Homo sapiens: one gene and its partners. The protein of the gene in region 1 purifies or fractionates together with the protein of each later gene. This does not show direct contact. Each region holds a gene or a part of one and is shown in the gene's direction. Other genes may lie near its edges.

Region 1 (8,273 bases):
GTATTTGACTGCATGGAAATGGTCATCTAAGGGAGTTTGTGGCAGCTCTTCCTAGCTTATCTAAAGACCCAGGAAGTCTGAACTTTGTTATCTAATTTTCCAAAAGTGACTAATTCTAAGCACCTCTTTCAGTATTCAAGTCAAACAACGTTGAAATGGATTGGGTGTTGAAGCATACTGGTCCAAATAGTCCTGACACGGCCAATGATGGCTTTGTACGGCTTAGAGGACTTCCCTTTGGATGTAGCAAGGAAGAAATTGTTCAGTTCTTCTCAGGTATGTAGTCATGTTTGTTGCTGAGCAGTGAGTTTTGGCTAGCTTATGGCAAGGTGATTTAATAGACGTTAAAGTTGAGTAGCTTAGGTATTTCAGTAGGTTGTAAATTGCCAATGAATTAATGTTTTCTTCCTAGAGACCTTCAAATAATTTAAGCCCATCTTAAAGGTGGAAATGAAGTACTTCCAAAATGTTAACTTTGCCTATATTTAGTATTATAGTTCAGAGTAGATCTTTCATTGAGGATTGCCCTCAACAGCTTAACTACTTTCCTCACATTGGTGTCCAGCTAAGTACCTCAAGTTAAAGGTAAGATCCCTTTACCAGCAGATCATCAGTGCGATGAATTAGGTTGTTGTAAATTATGGCAAGTGTCTGTGTTGCAAGAGACACGTATTTGGGTCATGTGACCAGAAGCATCTAATGGTCTAATTCTCTTTAATGCAAAAGTCGGTTTATGAAAGACTTGGTTTAACCTGTGTGGTATAAACTTACTGAAAATCAGATGTAGTGAGAGTAGTTTGAATGCTTGTAGTCTCAGTATCTGAAATAAGTGTTTTGAAATTGTTCCTGGGCCTAAAGTATTTGAATGTTTTTATGCTGAAGAGCTGATAAGATTGCATGTTTAACAATGTTAGATAAGATATCGTATATTTTAAGTATTAATATTTATGATGTGATACGCTGGAAGCAGGAAATCCTTTCATGGTTTAGTGTAGTATGTTAAAAATTGATATATGTATCGAGTCCTAATGTCAGAATTTTTAAAATCAAGTCTGTTTTGTTTTGACACTAAATTGGTGAGAATTGAATGCTGTCAACGTTAAATATGAACATAATTTCATATCTTCTAGGAAAGTGCTTTAAGTCCTTTTTGTAAGCTTGGGAATGTATCCACGGAAAGGATTTTTCATAGACGGAATTTCCAGAAGTGAATCATAACTACTGTTAGAGCATAAGCATGCATGATTGTGCTGTGTAGATCAGTTTTGTTGAAAGTTTAGATTGTTGTGTTTGTCAATTATAATTTAATGTTTCAGTTTTTATATGAAATGTTGTAAATGTATACCTTTTTAAAAACTTGAAGTTCCAATAACTTAAAGCATTGAAATATAAAATGAGGTAAAAGGTGTTTTGAATTTAGTAAAACTGTTATTTAATGCTTAAAACTTAATTGAATTGTATAATTCTCAACATTAAGTTGCATAGATATGTGTTCTTAAGTTGTTGAATTCTTAATGCATCCTGTGTTCAGCAAGTTTTTTTTAATATATACTGTACCATGGGTGTGTTAAGAATAGTTATACTTTATAATAATGGAACTTCATATTATTGCAATGCATATTTAAAGAGTACTTGTTGAAAGCATACCATTCACCTAAAGTTAAAAATTCTGGTTTATTTAAAGCTATAAGAAGAATCATTTCTGGGCTTGTGATGTTAATATTGCCCCCCTACTGGGGTTATTTGTCCTTGGGTTGAAGGGTTGGAAATCGTGCCAAATGGGATAACATTGCCGGTGGACTTCCAGGGGAGGAGTACGGGGGAGGCCTTCGTGCAGTTTGCTTCACAGGAAATAGCTGAAAAGGCTCTAAAGAAACACAAGGAAAGAATAGGGCACAGGTGGGGATGGATGGTTGGTTGGATATGTCACTTTTCTTATGGTAAACAATTAAATCCATATTCTCTCTGCTTAAAAGAAGAAATTAATGTTTTGTAGTCCTAGGTAATTGATGTTTTGCCATGATTTCCAAACTTGTGTCAGTCCCACGTTACACGCAAACTAAATTTTAGGTTTGAAATTTGTCCCTAGTTAATTGGTCTGCTTGACAATTTTGTGAGTCTTATTAACCCCAATCAATAGAGTTGAGAGACTATGGCTTTAAAAAATTAATGCAAACCTGGCTTTAGCTGTAATAACACCCACCTAGAATAAATTAATATTACCATAAGAAAATGTGATACTTTCTGATCTTGTTTTTAAAGTTGAAATGCAACAAACTTTTTCTTGCTGTATATAAATATTCTGCATAGTATTAATAAGCATAGCTTTCAAGAAATTGTCACAAAAGGTTTTATTCTCTTTGCTTGTGACTATTTTTCATTGAAGCATGCGCTTACCTATGCTGATTCTTACTAAAAGCATAGGCTGGGGTATTTATTGGCGAAAGGAAATGTGTAGTGTGGGCTGGACTGTTGGTGGAGGCTGGCTTTTTAGCCCACTTGCTATACATGCTGCCAATGGATTTAAGACTTGAAATGTTGAAAGTTGAGTGGAATTATTTCCCTCCTAAAACATTTATTTACAGTACTCCTCTCTACCCCTAAGGTTGGGCTCTGCCTCAGAGGAGTGAGTTTTTTTTTTTTTTCTATAAAGTTTACATTGTCTTACTATTTATTGAGTGAATTTCTGGTCATTGCCTATGCAAATATAAGAAATCTGGCTTTAAATATTAGTCAGTTTCATGGCTATGACTAGATTGTTTTCTTGTATAACTAAATACCTGTATAAAATGAACTAATGTTTTCTCTCCCCTCCCTACCCCTTCCTTATGAACAATGCTTTAGGTATATTGAAATCTTTAAGAGCAGTAGAGCTGAAGTTAGAACTCATTATGATCCACCACGAAAGCTTATGGCCATGCAGCGGCCAGGTCCTTATGACAGACCTGGGGCTGGTAGAGGGTATAACAGCATTGGCAGAGGAGCTGGCTTTGAGAGGATGAGGCGTGGTGCTTATGGTGGAGGTACGTGAGGATTCGTAAGGTTCGGCAAGTCGTCTGTTCCTTTGTCTAGGTGTTTTATTTGATTGATTGTACTTTGTCTTTCAGGCTATGGAGGCTATGATGATTACAATGGCTATAATGATGGCTATGGATTTGGGTCAGATAGATTTGGAAGAGGTAAGGTAAGAATTGAATTTCTCAGTTGAAGGATGCTTACACTCTTGTCCATCTAGACCTCAATTACTGTTTTTCAGGAATGTCTGATCACAGATACGGGGATGGTGGCTCTACTTTCCAGAGCACAACAGGACACTGTGTACACATGCGGGGATTACCTTACAGAGCTACTGAGAATGACATTTATAATGTAAGTGTGAGATGAACTCACAAGTCAATATTTCAGTATGGCAGTAAGTCAGCCTTATTCTATAAATGTGAGCACTATGTTAGAAATTTTAGGTTTTTTTTGTAACGTTAGAAAGTTGGTTGAATTCTTTGAAATGCCTTGTGTTGTAGTTTTTTTCACCGCTCAACCCTGTGAGAGTACACATTGAAATTGGTCCTGATGGCAGAGTAACTGGTGAAGCAGATGTCGAGTTCGCAACTCATGAAGATGCTGTGGCAGCTATGTCAAAAGACAAAGCAAATATGCGTAAGTGTGATTGAGCATTTGTGGGCTCTTAACAGGTGATTGTGTGACTAACATTTACAATAGAGAAATGGAAAAATAAGGATATATGAGAAGTTTCCTCTCCAGTAATAGATTAATTCTTGGGGGATGCGGGGGCAGTGTGTTGAAGGTTTGGGTTTTAAAAATTAGTATAACGGATTTGTGATATGCACATCTTGAAGTGTATATCCTTAATTGACAATACAGATGAATATGTAAAGGCTAGATTTTGGAGTTAAAGTAGATCACCTAAGAGAAGTAGCTAGAATTTCTTTGCCAAAGTATTTGAAGTTCACAGATCTGCTTGTTTAAAAACTTTATAAAAGTGCTTATTCTGTTTTGTTTCACCAACAAACATTTTCAAACTTTTTTTTTCTCATTTCAGAACACAGATATGTAGAACTCTTCTTGAATTCTACAGCAGGAGCAAGCGGTGGTGCTTACGGTAGCCAAATGCTAGGAGGCATGGGTTTGTGTAAATATCACTTTAGTGTCTTTTTTTTAAGCTAACCTTGTATGCCTTTTCTCTCATTTCAGAACACAGATATGTAGAACTCTTCTTGAATTCTACAGCAGGAGCAAGCGGTGGTGCTTATGGTAGCCAAATGATGGGAGGCATGGGCTTGTGTAAATATCGTTAGTTTTTTTAAAAACCAAAACGTTTATATCTGTATAAGTCAATTATAAGTTAAGTTAATCTATTTATTTAATAAGTTTAGCATAAGAAACTTAGGCAAAGCAGTTTCTTGATATTTGAGTTTTGTATCTGGCTTACTTAAATCCTTGTGAGTTATGAAGTTCCTTAGGATAGATAATTCAAATTAGGTTTAAGTAGTCTTGGGGGAGGGGACTACGGAGTGAAACTACTTAAATTTTCTAAGTATAAAGTTTAAATCAATAGCAAAACAGGATTAAGATAAATGTGGGCATAATTAGGTGTATTGACATGCCTTTGATGTATCAAACTGAGGGGGAACCCACTAAATCCAGTCAAGCAGTTTCATAAGATCTTCACAAAATGCCTCTACTTACGGAATCATGTTGATTTTAGTCCTGCTGATGTGTGTACCGTTAGCACTTTGGTTTATCAATATTTGACTGGCTCAAATGATGGATAGAAGGGTGGCCTGGTTATAGACAGTAGGCAGAAGGAGGCAGAGGGTTACAGTAATGTAAGATCAAGACTGGAAAATGATAGCTATAGAATTACAAGCCCGGTACCACCAGGTACCACATCACATAAGAAAAAAGGTTCTAATGTTTTCTTAACTTAACAGCAAACCAGTCCAGCTACGGGGGCCCAGCCAGCCAGCAGCTGAGTGGGGGTTACGGAGGCGGCTACGGTGGCCAGAGCAGCATGAGTGGATACGGTAAAGCCTGTTTGTTACTGTACTTAGAGTAAGTTATGGTAAAGCCTGTTCATTACTGTACTTAGAGTAAGTTATGGTAAAGCCTGTTACTGTACTTAGAGTAAGTCGCAGGCAGGTGCCTTTAGTTGGGAAGATGCAGGCTCCTTTCGGTGAAATTGGGTTATGAAATGTATGCTTTCAATCCAAATGTAACTGTTTTTACTAGCTAATTTTCAGAAACAATCATTGGGAGGGGGAAGTGTTCTTTGAATTAAGAACTAGTCATTGCAGCTTTGGAATACTGTCGAGCCAGAAAATATCTGCCTCCATGTATTAAAACATTAAATAAAGTTGTTCACTTTTTTGTCTTTTGGTTAGCATTAAGTCAGTTTTAGACAGAGGGAGAATTTGAAATAGTAGAATGGTGGTTGGGTTCAGGATCGTATTTATTAGTCAGTTAACCTAGGATTGGTTTTATTTATTTTTTTTCAATTGGTCTAAAGAATGGTGATTTTGGTATTATAGTCTTACCCTACAAAATCCTTTTGCAGACCAAGTTTTACAGGAAAACTCCAGTGATTTTCAATCAAACATTGCATAGGTAAATATTTTCTCAAAAAATATAAATTCCCAATAGCAAATACTGATATGTTGTAATAATGCTTTCTATAGCAGTCAATGGCTCTGACTTAACTCCATGGAGGCTGCCATTTGGGCACAGTGAGTTGCCTTTAGTCCAGCTTGGTTGTCTCACTTCCTGCCCACCATGAATAGGAAAAGCAAGAGACTTCCCCTGTGCTCCCTTTTCTCAAATGCCATTCGAGGGACACATTGTGAATGTTTATGTTAAATTTTTTTTAAAAATGCCTTGTTTAGCTTTAAAAATACGAAGTAATTTTGCAATTTTTGAAAAACACTAGTTTTCCTTTAAACTTAATTTTTCATGTTGATCCTGAAGAATCCGTTAAAATGGTAGCACAAGAGTCTGGCAAGTTGGTACTGCAGAGAAAAGGGGTTAATTGAGGCTTGTTTGGAGTCGGGATTCCCCTTTCCCAAACATGCGTCTCGCCACTTGGACAGCAGCCATTTGTACTCGTATACTTTTTAAACTTTTTCTTGGAATACTATATTTTATTTGACTGGTAGTCTGATATTACTCCTAACTTGTCAAATTGATCTCTTTGCAGGTAACCAAGGAGCAGTGAACAGCAGCTACTACAGTAGTGGAAGCCGTGCATCTATGGGCGTGAACGGAATGGGAGGGTTGTCTAGCATGTCCAGTATGAGTGGTGGATGGGGAATGTAATTGATCGATCCTGATCACTGACTCTTGGTCAACCTTTTTTTTTTTTTTTTTTTTTTCTTTAAGAAAACTTCAGTTTAACAGTTTCTGCAATACAAGCTTGTGATTTATGCTTACTCTAAGTGGAAATCAGGATTGTTATGAAGACTTAAGGCCCAGTATTTTTGAATACAATACTCATCTAGGATGTAACAGTGAAGCTGAGTAAACTATAACTGTTAAACTTAAGTTCCAGCTTTTCTCAAGTTAGTTATAGGATGTACTTAAGCAGTAAGCGTATTTAGGTAAAAGCAGTTGAATTATGTTAAATGTTGCCCTTTGCCACGTTAAATTGAACACTGTTTTGGATGCATGTTGAAAGACATGCTTTTATTTTTTTGTAAAACAATATAGGAGCTGTGTCTACTATTAAAAGTGAAACATTTTGGCATGTTTGTTAATTCTAGTTTCATTTAATAACCTGTAAGGCACGTAAGTTTAAGCTTTTTTTTTTTTTAAGTTAATGGGAAAAATTTGAGACGCAATACCAATACTTAGGATTTTGGTCTTGGTGTTTGTATGAAATTCTGAGGCCTTGATTTAAATCTTTCATTGTATTGTGATTTCCTTTTAGGTATATTGCGCTAAGTGAAACTTGTCAAATAAATCCTCCTTTTAAAAACTGCACTCTGTCTTGTCTGTGCTTCAGTGTCATGTGGACTGAGTCTTGGTGCTCTGTGCCCACCTGGGGCCTAGGGCCACATCTCTGGCTTGGCAGTTGAGGCTGTTGCGTAGATGTCTTCAGTCTTCCCTCCAGTGCAACTGAAGGTAAACTCGTCTTTGGGGCCCTGGTGGAAGGGCTGTATGTCATTTGGCTGCACAGGACCTGATCTGAACTGCCTGTAACTCATTAAGCACTTGCACAAAACAAAGGGGGAGGCGCCAGTGCCCTCACTGCATGCCTGCATGTCTTTGAGGCCTTCATGCTTGGCTGGGAAGGTGCCGGAGGCAAGGGAGGTGTGATGAATATGTGGGTTTCTTCTAGCTCATAAGCTCATAGGTTTGTTTTTTTTTTTGAGGCAGAGTTATATTCTGTTGTCTCAGGCTGGATTGCAGTGGCGTGATCTCAGCTCACCTGCAACCTCCACCTTGTGGGCTTCTGCCTCAGCCTCCCAAGTAGTTGGGGTTACAGGCGCCCACCACCACTCCAGGCTAATTTTTTTTGTATGTTTAGTAGACACGGGGTTTCACGATGTTGGCCAGGCTGGTCTCCAACTCCTGACCTCATGAGATCTGCCCACCTCGGCCTCTGAAAGTGCTGGGATTATAGGCTGGAGCCATTGCCCAGCCTTCACAGATGGTTTTCAAATGGAAGTTTTGAACTTCTGTATTTTTGGGTCATTCCTAAAAATCAATTCCACTTGGAAGCAAAATTCCATGTAAGTCTCCTAAGGTAGAACGATAGGTAGAGATTGAGAGCTAACATGAGAAGTTTAAATGAACTCTTAAATATATCACGTTTTGGTAGTTCGAAGCTCCAACATGATGATAGCAAGTATTCAAGCTGCTTCCAAGTGGTGTACCTGAGCGAGTTAGAAACGCCACACTTGGAGACGAGTTCAGGAGTCCTTTATTAGCCGGCGACCGAGAGACGGCTACCGCATGAAAGTATCTCGGCCTCGAAGAAGGAGCTAGATTTTCTTTTATACTTTGGTTTGGAGAGGGGAGGGGGATTCTAGCTGCAGCCATCTTAGGGAAGAAAAACAGACAAAAAAGTTAAAGACAAATGGTTACAGGAAAACAGTTCCAGGTGCAGGAGCTTCAAATTCATCACAAAGTGACAGGTGAGGGGGCTCTGGGTGTTATCTACCGGACAAACATGGGGGCTTGATGGTACCATCTCTGAGTAAATTGCTGGGAACTGGACATCGCTTGCCTCAGCACCTTATCAGTTAACTGCACTCTTTGAT
Region 2 (3,862 bases), on another chromosome or scaffold:
ACCTTATTTTATTCTGACTGCTAAACAGAATTGGAAACTAACATCATCCTCAGGTAACAGATAAAGGCCCTCTTTCCCATTCATAGGAAGCAATTTTGGAGGTGGTGGAAGCTACAATGATTTTGGGAATTACAACAATCAGTCTTCAAATTTTGGACCCATGAAGGGAGGAAATTTTGGAGGCAGAAGCTCTGGCCCCTATGGCGGTGGAGGCCAATACTTTGCAAAACCACGAAACCAAGGTATGGTATCTATGTAATTTTGGATAATGTCAAAAGAGTGTCTGTAGCTACTGCTGGGAAGAAAGCCCTTTAACTGCTATGTCTGGGCAGCAAAACGTTTATAGTTTAGAACCTTCAGAAAGTGATAATTTGATCACAAATTAGAAAAATCATGGGACCTCTTTACCACCTCCCTTGTAGTAGGGCCATTTTTAAATGGCCAGACACTTGAATTTAACTTTTATTATCCCAAATATGAAAACATTACTGTTGGCACTTTGAAACTTTAAAAGAAAAATTGTACTTTTCAGGTGGCTATGGCGGTTCCAGCAGCAGCAGTAGCTATGGCAGTGGCAGAAGATTTTAATTAGGTAAGTAAGCACCTTTTTGTGTGTTGACATAATTTTTTAAATTGCTGATGAACCCAATAACCCTAATGTAGCTGAGCAGTGCAACATAGTTAACATTATAATTGCAGTAATTGTGGATATAAAGTTAATATTCAGATCAGCAAAATTTGTGGGAAACAAACTTGATATTGGATTGTAGCCTTGAGTCTTAATATGTTTAGATTAACAACTTTATTCCATATTGTTCAACAGGAAACAAAGCTTAGCAGGAGAGGAGAGCCAGAGAAGTGACAGGGAAGCTACAGGTTACAACAGATTTGTGAACTCAGCCAAGCACAGTGGTGGCAGGGCCTAGCTGCTACAAAGAAGACATGTTTTAGACAAATACTCATGTGTATGGGCAAAAAACTCGAGGACTGTATTTGTGACTAATTGTATAACAGGTTATTTTAGTTTCTGTTCTGTGGAAAGTGTAAAGCATTCCAACAAAGGGTTTTAATGTAGATTTTTTTTTTTGCACCCCATGCTGTTGATTGCTAAATGTAACAGTCTGATCGTGACGCTGAATAAATGTCTTTTTTTTAATGTGCTGTGTAAAGTTAGTCTACTCTTAAGCCATCTTGGTAAATTTCCCCAACAGTGTGAAGTTAGAATTCCTTCAGGGTGATGCCAGGTTCTATTTGGAATTTATATACAACCTGCTTGGGTGGAGAAGCCATTGTCTTCGGAAACCTTGGTGTAGTTGAACTGATAGTTACTGTTGTGACCTGAAGTTCACCATTAAAAGGGATTACCCAAGCAAAATCATGGAATGGTTATAAAAGTGATTGTTGGCACATCCTATGCAATATATCTAAATTGAATAATGGTACCAGATAAAATTATAGATGGGAATGAAGCTTGTGTATCCATTATCATGTGTAATCAATAAACGATTTAATTCTCTTGAATGAAATGACAACTGTATGGATTTGGGACTGGCAGAGATTTGGACTTTCCCTACCCACTCCCCCTGATAATAATGTTGAATGCTTCTATCACAATTCAAGTTCAAAGCTCTGCCAGGGAATAGAAACTAGCTGCTGGCTAATGCCGCTCCATAAATCCGCAGATTTGAAGTGTCTGGGAGGCCTTTTAAAAATAACTAATATCAGAAAGCATTTTAATGAACGTAAAGATAGGCTTACATTAAAGGAAAACTGCAGTTTGACTGGGTTCTGGTTGGGTGGGCCTTCAGAGGTTCTATCAGTTAACTATACTAATTAATTTGGAGATTCAAACCATACCAATAGAAACTAAATTTTTCTACATAATTTCATGTTAACTGCAGTTTCCCTTTATGGCACAAGGGGTCACACAACCTACCTAAAATGTTAATTGTATAGAAAATGATTTCTAAACCTTTAACAGTTAATATCCAATAATGTGTTATTTGTACATAGATTCTTTTGAGCCTTACCTTTGGTGCTCTCTCAATTTCAGTGCTATTGTACCTAGTAGCATAGAGATTTGTCTATCAATAGGACTGTATATTCCATCCCATGGGTGTGTTGGAAGTTTGGGGAGGAGGAGGGTGGTGGGAGGTGGGTGGGAGGTGGTGGTGGGTGGGAAAGCATGGGTGATAGTTCCATGATACTGGCTGAGTTTGCAATAGCAGGTGGAACCCTAACTATTGAGGGAGTTTGCAGATACCTCAGGATTCGTGACAATGCCTTTAAAGATCCAGGAGAGATGTTCAGCTACTAGGAACTGCTAGCAAGTATAGCGCGAATGGCTCCGAGCTCAGACACTCTACAGCTGAGAGTAGACACTTGTGGTATGTGGAGTACAGATAAGCCAGGGGCAGGCCACGGCACGCTCCATGAAAGCTAGGAGGGAGTGAAATATCAGTGATCATCGCAAGGAAGGAGGCAGACAAGAGTAAGGCACACCTGACTCTTAGGACTAGCAGTCAGAACCAGGAGGAAAGGTTTTATTGCTATGCGGGTAGGTAAGAACAGATTTTACTTACATCCATATAGTTACTTAAAGTCCAGTTTTCTGTTAAACATTTTTCTTAATATATTGAGCCAAAACTAGTCCAGTTAAGCTGAACTTGGTTTTTCTGGAGATGAATTGTTTTAAATTGACACCCTATTGATGGCTCCCAGTTGAAGGAAGTGAGCACATTATTTGTACTGTGAATATAAATTTTTGCCCTTTTATTTATCTTCCTTTGACCCATTTCCTTAAAATAATGGCTCAAAGTAATAGACTTCCCCAAATGGTGGGGGGATGGGTGGGTTATTAATGGGAGGTATGGGGGGTTTAGCTTGAGATGGGACTTGGTCTTAGAGCTAGTTCTAAAGGTTGTTTACTTTTCTAGGGAGGAGTCTGCTACTAGTCTTATCAGCTCTTAAAAACAGAAACTCATCTGTCCAAGTTCGTGGCAGAAAGGTAAGTTTTTACAAATTAGTGCTCAGCAAAAGAATGCCCTGCGTTCCCAAAGTAAAAGAATGACAAGCTGTACCTTAAACCAAAACACTTCGTAATCTCATCCAATTGCAAAAAGAGTTATTAGCCAACCAGGTATTCCCAGTAGTGACAGTGGATATAACTGTGTAGTCATTCACCTCTGCTTATATGAATACTTTACAACCTCTTTTGCCTTTTGCAGGAACGTCCTTGTGAAGACCTTTATCTGAGCCACTGTACTTCGTTATCACTGCCATGCAGTTTACATGAGCTGTTCTGCAGCTCAAATTCCATTTTGTGAATGGGTTTTTTTTTTTAATAAACTGTATTTAACTTAGTTCTGCTTGTTTTGTCCTCCTTTGTGATATCTATGGTTAATAACATGTTGAAATTCAGGTTAGAGAGGATATGGTTGATTCTAATGTGAATTTCTATATTTAGATTCATCCCATTCAGCTTCATGGTTTAATGAAAATAGAAATGGGTTCTCACTACAGGAGTAATTCTTGGCTCACTATAAGTAAACTTTACTATTGATCCAATTGAGCATGTCCTTTTTCTAGCTCCCCTGGCAAGGGAAAATCAAGTTGTAGCACTGCCATTGAGCTCAGTATGTCTCTATTGGGACTTACGCTCACCATCTGTTGCAGAAGGACATAATGGATTTCATCTTTGGCAAACAAGTTGGGCTTATTGGCCAGCTGTCTCATACTTCAGTAGAATTCTCAAGCCAGGAGTAAGAAAGTGAACTGAATGAGAGGCAAGACTTAGCCTCTCAAAGATAGCCTAAAAATGTAAGGACTATTTTGGAAGCAATAATTGTACCCTCTAGCAAAT
Region 3 (7,624 bases), on another chromosome or scaffold:
AATCCTTCCTTCCTGGTTTCTCAAGAGAAAGTCTATACTGGTAACCAAATTCACTTTAAACAGGCATTTTCTTTGGTATGACACTATTTAAGAGAAGCAGGAAACCAACGTGAACCAGCTCTTTCCAATGGCTCAAGATTTCCTATGAGAGGACTAAAAATGGGGAAAATTTTTATGAGAGGATTAAAAATGGGGGAAAAAAAACCCTGAAATGGTTAATCAGAAGATCCTATGGGCTGAGAAGGAATCCATCTTAACATTTCATCTTAAAGCAAATGCTATTGCCGGGGGCAGTGGCTCATGCCTGTAATCCCAGCACTTTGGGAGGCCGAGGTGGGCAGATCATCTGAGGTCAGGAGTTTGAGACCAGCCTGACCAACATGGAGAAACCCCGTTTCTACTAAAAATACAAAATTAGCCAGGCATAGTGGTGCATGCCTGTAATCCCAGCTACTTGGGAGGCTGAGGCAGGAGAACTGCTTGAACCCAGGAGGCTTAAGTTGCGGTGAGCCAAGATCACGCCATTGCACTCTAGCCTGGACAACAAGAGAAAAACTCTGTCTCAAAAAAACACAAAAACAAAAAACCCAAATACTATTTAAAAAAGATAAACCTTAATTGCTCAATCATTAAAGCCATCCCACAAGTAAAGCAGCAAGCAGAAAAAAGTTAAGAACACCTCAAGGCTACAGAAGGACATTTCAAGCTATGCAGGCATATGAAGTGTGCAGACAGATATGTAAGAAAGGCCTCAAGACTGCAAAAGGGCATTTCAAGCTATGCAAGCATATAGGTAACACATACACACACACAAAATAAAAATCCCCTGAAATACAAAAACATGCAGCAAACACCTGACGTTTTTGGATACCATTTCTAAGTCAGGTGTTATGATTCTCATTAGTCAAGATACTTGAGTACTGGGCCCAAACAGCTTTCTGCCACTGTACAGTACAAGAAGGTAGGAATAATGGTGGGAGGAGCAAAGACAAACTGTAATAGACAGAAGTGTATCAGATACCTATACTACATGAAAAACAAAACAGCTACTGCCACAAAGGGAGAAGGCTAACAAAATAAAGTCAACAATAAATACAGAAAATGAAAAGGATACACACTAAGGTTTACAAAAAAAAAAAGGCAGACAAAATGCCATACAGTATTCATTCACTACTATGGCATTCATAAGCTAGTTTCAAATGCTCACTATTTTCTTTTATAGTATATATTTGCCTTAACCCAGCACTTTTTTCCAAAAGTGGATGAGTCAAAATAAATTTCCCATTATTTAAGTGAAATTAACAGCACACATATCTCACAACACTAATGAATTTTTAAAATGGAAAGTTAAGAACTTTTAAAGTGGCCAACCTGTGATCCTTCACAAAATAAACTAAATACAATAACAGACCCCAAAGGCTATCAATTGCGTGCAAAAACAACTTCTGTTTTCCAGGGTAAACAGAATCTAATGCAGAATCTAATGCAGGGTAAACAGACTTAATGCAGAATCTAATGATGGCACAAATTAAAAATCACTAACGTGCCCTTTTTAGTGTGAAACCCAGAGAGAGCACATACAAGCCAAAAACAAATGCTTTATTTTACCTAGGAGACATTAACATTCACCTTTACGTGTTTAAGATTAATGCAATGTTAAATATTGTGAAAACTGTAACTTTGAATTTCATGATTTTTATGTGAATATTCCAGGGTTTAAAAAAACTTGTAACATGACATGGCTGAATAAGATAAAAAAAAAATCTAGCCTTTTCTCCCTTCTGGCTCATATTTGCGATTTCGATCATTTTGTTTAAAAAACAAAACACTGCAATGAATTAAACTTAATATTCTTCTATGTTTTAGAGTAAGTTAAAACAAGATAAAGTGACCAAAGTAATTTGAAAGATTCAATGACTTTTGCTCCAACCTAGGTGCACAAGGTACCTTGTTCTTTAAATTGGGCTTTAATGAAAATACTTCTCCAGAATTCTGGGGATTTAAGAAAAATTATGCCAACCAACAAGGGCTTTACCATTTTATGTAACATTTTTCAACGCTGCAAAAATGTGTGTATTTCTATTTGAAGATAAAAATCCTCAGCAAAATCCACATTGCACTGTCCTTCAAAGATTAGCCTTCTTTGAACTAGTTAAGACACTATTAAGCCAAGCCAGTATCTCCCTGTAATGAATTCGTTTTTCTCTTAATTTTCCCCTGTAATTTACACTGGGAGAGCTGGGAAATATGTGGATGTAAATTTCTCAGCCACAGAGATGCAAAGTTATACTGTGGGGAAAAAAAACTTGAGTTAAATCCTTACATATTTTAGGTTTTCATTAACTTACCAATGTAGTTTTGTTGGAGGCCATTTTTTATTGCAGACTTGAAGAGCTATTACTAGAAAAATGCATGACAGTTAAGGTAAGTTTGCATGACACAAAAAAGGTAACTAAATACAAATTCTGTTTGGATTCCAACCCCCAAGTAGAGAGCGCACATTTCAAACGTGAATACAAATCCAGAGTAGATCTGCGCTCCTACCTACATTGCTTATGATGTACTTAAGTACGTGTCCTAACCATGTGAGTCTAGAAAGACTTTACTGGGGATCCTGGTACCTAAAACAGCTTCACATGGCTTAAAATAGGGGACCAATGTCTTTTCCAATCTAAGTCCCATTTATAATAAAGTCCATGTTCCATTTTTAAAGGACAATCCTTTCGGTTTAAAACCAGGCACGATTACCCAAACAACTCACAACGGTAAAGCACTGTGAATCTTCTCTGTTCTGCAATCCCAACTTGGTTTCTGCTCAGAAACCCTCCCTCTTTCCAATCGGTAATTAAATAACAAAAGGAAAAAACTTAAGATGCTTCAACCCCGTTTCGTGACACTTTGAAAAAAGAATCACCTCTTGCAAACACCCGCTCCCGACCCCCGCCGCTGAAGCCCGGCGTCCAGAGGCCTAAGCGCGGGTGCCCGCCCCCACCCGGGAGCGCGGGCCTCGTGGTCAGCGCATCCGCGGGGAGAAACAAAGGCCGCGGCACGGGGGCTCAAGGGCACTGCGCCACACCGCACGCGCCTACCCCCGCGGCGGCCACGTTAACTGGGCGGTCGCCGCAGCCTCGGGACAGCCGGCCGCGCGCCGCCAGGCCTCGCGGACGCGGGACCACGCGCCGCCCTCCGGGAGGCCCAAGTCTCGACCCAGCCCCGCGTGGCGGCTGGGGGAGGGGGCGCCTCCGCCGGAACGCGGGTGGGGGAGGGGAGGGGGAAATGCGCTTTGTCTCGAAATGGGGCAACCGTCGCCACAGCTCCCTACCCCCTCGAGGGCAGAGCAGTCCCCCCACTAACTACCGGCGCTGGCCGCGCGCCAGGCCAGCCGCGAGGCCACCGCCCGACCCTCCACTCCTTCCCGCAGCTCCCGGCGCGGGGTCCGGCGAGAAGGGGAGGGGAGGGGAGCGGAGAACCGGGCCCCCGGGACGCGTGTGGCATCTGAAGCACCACCAGCGAGCGAGAGCTAGAGAGAAGGAAAGCCACCGACTTCACCGCCTCCGAGCTGCTCCGGGTCGCGGGTCTGCAGCGTCTCCGGCCCTCCGCGCCTACAGCTCAAGCCACATCCGAAGGGGGAGGGAGCCGGGAGCTGCGCGCGGGGCCGCCGGGGGGAGGGGTGGCACCGCCCACGCCGGGCGGCCACGAAGGGCGGGGCAGCGGGCGCGCGCCCGGCGGGGGGAGGGGCCGCGCGCCGCGCCCGCTGGGAATTGGGGCCCTAGGGGGAGGGCGGAGGCGCCGACGACCGCGGCACTTACCGTTCGCGGCGTGGCGCCCGGTGGTCCCCAAGGGGAGGGAAGGGGGAGGCGGGGCGAGGACAGTGACCGGAGTCTCCTCAGCGGTGGCTTTTCTGCTTGGCAGCCTCAGCGGCTGGCGCCAAAACCGGACTCCGCCCACTTCCTCGCCCCTGCGGTGCGAGGGTGTGGAATCCTCCAGACGCTGGGGGAGGGGGAGTTGGGAGCTTAAAAACTAGTACCCCTTTGGGACCACTTTCAGCAGCGAACTCTCCTGTACACCAGGGGTCAGTTCCACAGACGCGGGCCAGGGGTGGGTCATTGCGGCGTGAACAATAATTTGACTAGAAGTTGATTCGGGTGTTTCCGGAAGGGGCCGAGTCAATCCGCCGAGTTGGGGCACGGAAAACAAAAAGGGAAGGCTACTAAGATTTTTCTGGCGGGGGTTATCATTGGCGTAACTGCAGGGACCACCTCCCGGGTTGAGGGGGCTGGATCTCCAGGCTGCGGATTAAGCCCCTCCCGTCGGCGTTAATTTCAAACTGCGCGACCGTTTCTCACCTGCCTTGCGCCAAGGCAGGGGGCGGGACCCTATTCCAAGAGGTAGTAACTAGCAGGACTCTAGCCTTCCGCAATTCATTGAGCGCATTTACGGAAGTAACGTCGGGTACTGTCTCTGGCCGCAAGGGTGGGAGGAGTACGCATTTGGCGTAAGGTGGGGCGTAGAGCCTTCCCGCCATTGGCGGCGGATAGGGCGTTTACGCGACGGCCTGACGTAGCGGAAGACGCGTTAGTGGGGGGGAAGGTTCTAGAAAAGCGGCGGCAGCGGCTCTAGCGGCAGTAGCAGCAGCGCCGGGTCCCGTGCGGAGGTGCTCCTCGCAGAGTTGTTTCTCGAGCAGCGGCAGTTCTCACTACAGCGCCAGGACGAGTCCGGTTCGTGTTCGTCCGCGGAGATCTCTCTCATCTCGCTCGGCTGCGGGAAATCGGGCTGAAGCGACTGAGTCCGCGATGGAGGTAACGGGTTTGAAATCAATGAGTTATTGAAAAGGGCATGGCGAGGCCGTTGGCGCCTCAGTGGAAGTCGGCCAGCCGCCTCCGTGGGAGAGAGGCAGGAAATCGGACCAATTCAGTAGCAGTGGGGCTTAAGGTTTATGAACGGGGTCTTGAGCGGAGGCCTGAGCGTACAAACAGCTTCCCCACCCTCAGCCTCCCGGCGCCATTTCCCTTCACTGGGGGTGGGGGATGGGGAGCTTTCACATGGCGGACGCTGCCCCGCTGGGGTGAAAGTGGGGCGCGGAGGCGGGAATTCTTATTCCCTTTCTAAAGCACGCTGCTTCGGGGGCCACGGCGTCTCCTCGGCGAGCGTTTCGGCGGGCAGCAGGTCCTCGTGAGCGAGGCTGCGGAGCTTCCCCTCCCCCTCTCTCCCGGGAACCGGATTTGGCGGCCGCCATTTTCATGGCTCGCCTTCCTCTCAGCGTTTTCCTTATAACTCTTTTATTTTCTTAGTGTGCTTTCTCTATCAAGAAGTAGAAGTGGTTAACTATTTTTTTTTCTTCTCGGGCTGTTTTCATATCGTTTCGAGGTGGATTTGGAGTGTTTTGTGAGCTTGGATCTTTAGAGTCCTGCGCACCTCATTAAAGGCGCTCAGCCTTCCCCTCGATGAAATGGCGCCATTGCGTTCGGAAGCCACACCGAAGAGCGGGGAGGGGGGGTGCTCCGGGTTTGCGGGCCCGGTTTCAGAGAAGATATCACCACCCAGGGCGTCGGGCCGGGTTCAATGCGAGCCGTAGGACAAAGAAACCATTTTATGTTTTTCCTGTCTTTTTTTTCCTTTGAGTAACGGTTTTATCTGGGTCTGCAGTCAGTAAAACGACAGATGAACCGCGGCAAAATAAACATAAATTGGAAGCCATCGGCCACGAGGGGCAGGGACGAAGGTGGTTTTCTGGGCGGGGGAGGGATATTCGCGTCAGAATCCTTTACTGTTCTTAAGGATTCCGTTTAAGTTGTAGAGCTGACTCATTTTAAGTAATGTTGTTACTGAGAAGTTTAACCCTTACGGGACAGATCCATGGACCTTTATAGATGATTACGAGGAAAGTGAAATAACGATTTTGTCCTTAGTTATACTTCGATTAAAACATGGCTTCAGAGGCTCCTTCCTGTAATGCGTATGGATTGATGTGCAAAACTGTTTTGGGCCTGGGCCGCTCTGTATTTGAACTTTGTTACTTTTCTCATTTTGTTTGCAATCTTGGTTGAACATTACATTGATAAGCATAAGGTCTCAAGCGAAGGGGGTCTACCTGGTTATTTTCTTTGACCCTAAGCACGTTTATAAAATAACATTGTTTAAAATCGATAGTGGACATCGGGTAAGTTTGGATAAATTGTGAGGTAAGTAATGAGTTTTTGCTTTTTGTTAGTGATTTGTAAAACTTGTTATAAATGTACATTATCCGTAATTTCAGTTTAGAGATAACCTATGTGCTGACGACAATTAAGAATAAAAACTAGCTGAAAAAATGAAAATAACTATCGTGACAAGTAACCATTTCAAAAGACTGCTTTGTGTCTCATAGGAGCTAGTTTGATCATTTCAGTTAATTTTTTCTTTAATTTTTACGAGTCATGAAAACTACAGGAAAAAAATCTGAACTGGGTTTTACCACTACTTTTTAGGAGTTGGGAGCATGCGAATGGAGGGAGAGCTCCGTAGAACTGGGATGAGAGCAGCAATTAATGCTGCTTGCTAGGAACAAAAAATAATTGATTGAAAATTACGTGTGACTTTTTAGTTTGCATTATGCGTTTGTAGCAGTTGGTCCTGGATATCACTTTCTCTCGTTTGAGGTTTTTTAACCTAGTTAACTTTTAAGACAGGTTTCCTTAACATTCATAAGTGCCCAGAATACAGCTGTGTAGTACAGCATATAAAGATTTCAGCTCTGAGGTTTTTCCTATTGACTTGGAAAATTGTTTTGTGCCTGTCGCTTGCCACATGGCCAATCAAGTAAGCTTCAGCTTTCAGTAATTGTTATCTTAGAGATTATGCCACGTGAATGTATTTTATTGTACATATGGTTAAGCTGAGTAATTCATATTCTGTATTGTCATATATCAAATATAGACATGTCCACCAAAAATTAAACTTTTTAAGCTTCGAGTGCTGCTGGTCATAAAAATTAATTTGTCCTGGTTATAAGAGTAATTTTTAAGGTTATTTCTAATGCATATCTTTAAATATTTTCGTAACTGAGAGTCATATGGAGAAACTTAGTGTTTGTTGTAAAAAGTTGTGTTTTTTTGGCTGAGATACTTAGAATCACCACCAGAGGGGGCAGTTAAGGGAAAATAAATGATACTTTTCAGATATTGAATAGTGAAATAAAAACTTTGGGTCATAAGTAATGAACCAAGAGTTATTTTCTGATGTTTAAAAATAGAAATTTGCGTTTTTAGGTTGTAGGGTTGAAATTTTTGGTAAAGATTCTTTAATAATCCTTTGATAATCACGGTCTACATTTGTTTATTTTTCCTTAGAAAGTTTTTTTTTTAATTAATAATTTAAGATAATTTAATGTTGAGTAAATTTATATCAAGCATTAATGACTTTGAAACTTGTGTAGATCAGCTGAGGCAATTTTTTGGTGTAACACAACTAATATGCAGTTTAACATATGGTTTAAATTTGATGTAAGTTTTTTTTTTCCCCCCAGAAAACTTTAGAAACTGTTCCTTTGGAGAGGAAAAAGGTACTCTGCCAGCAGGTCACCTCATATTTAAGAATTTAATTTCCTGCATACAAAGAGGAAAATGTAAATAAAAATTGAAATGGT

What was found. Proteins that work in one complex are often made in the same cells at the same time.
Region 2: the proteins of HNRNPH1 (region 1) and HNRNPA1 purify together in Homo sapiens (affinity purification with mass spectrometry; 7 studies listed by BioGRID and IntAct, with this or other methods). This does not show direct contact.
Region 3: the proteins of HNRNPH1 (region 1) and HNRNPA2B1 purify together in Homo sapiens (affinity purification with mass spectrometry; 5 studies listed by BioGRID and IntAct, with this or other methods). This does not show direct contact.

Annotation. Positions count from the first base shown.
Region 1 is NC_000005.10:179,612,895-179,621,167, reverse strand, and holds the end of HNRNPH1 (heterogeneous nuclear ribonucleoprotein H), read left to right. Parts: intron 1-132; coding exon 133-276; intron 277-1,760; coding exon 1,761-1,899; intron 1,900-2,844; coding exon 2,845-3,023; intron 3,024-3,107; coding exon 3,108-3,179; intron 3,180-3,235; coding exon 3,236-3,369; intron 3,370-3,518; coding exon 3,519-3,654; intron 3,655-4,057; coding exon 4,058-4,117; coding exon of another isoform or gene 4,118-4,147; intron 4,148-4,209; coding exon 4,210-4,299; coding exon of another isoform or gene 4,300-4,308; intron 4,309-4,949; coding exon 4,950-5,042; intron 5,043-5,572; coding exon 5,573-5,622; intron 5,623-6,208; coding exon of another isoform or gene 6,209-6,327; 3' UTR 6,328-6,990; downstream 6,991-8,273. UniProt on the Homo sapiens protein: This protein is a component of the heterogeneous nuclear ribonucleoprotein (hnRNP) complexes which provide the substrate for the processing events that pre-mRNAs undergo before becoming functional, translatable mRNAs in the cytoplasm.
Region 2 is NC_000012.12:54,283,726-54,287,587, forward strand, and holds the end of HNRNPA1 (heterogeneous nuclear ribonucleoprotein A1), read left to right. Parts: intron 1-86; coding exon 87-242; intron 243-532; coding exon 533-588; 3' UTR 589-592; intron 593-823; 3' UTR 824-3,362; downstream 3,363-3,862. UniProt on the Homo sapiens protein: Involved in the packaging of pre-mRNA into hnRNP particles, transport of poly(A) mRNA from the nucleus to the cytoplasm and modulation of splice site selection.
Region 3 is NC_000007.14:26,197,747-26,205,370, reverse strand, and holds the start of HNRNPA2B1 (heterogeneous nuclear ribonucleoproteins A2/B1), read left to right. Parts: upstream 1-4,624; 5' UTR 4,625-4,793; coding exon 4,794-4,799; intron 4,800-7,504; coding exon of another isoform or gene 7,505-7,540; intron 7,541-7,624. Other genes in the region: CBX3 (chromobox protein homolog 3), read right to left, coding at 2,349-2,372. UniProt on the Homo sapiens protein: Heterogeneous nuclear ribonucleoprotein (hnRNP) that associates with nascent pre-mRNAs, packaging them into hnRNP particles.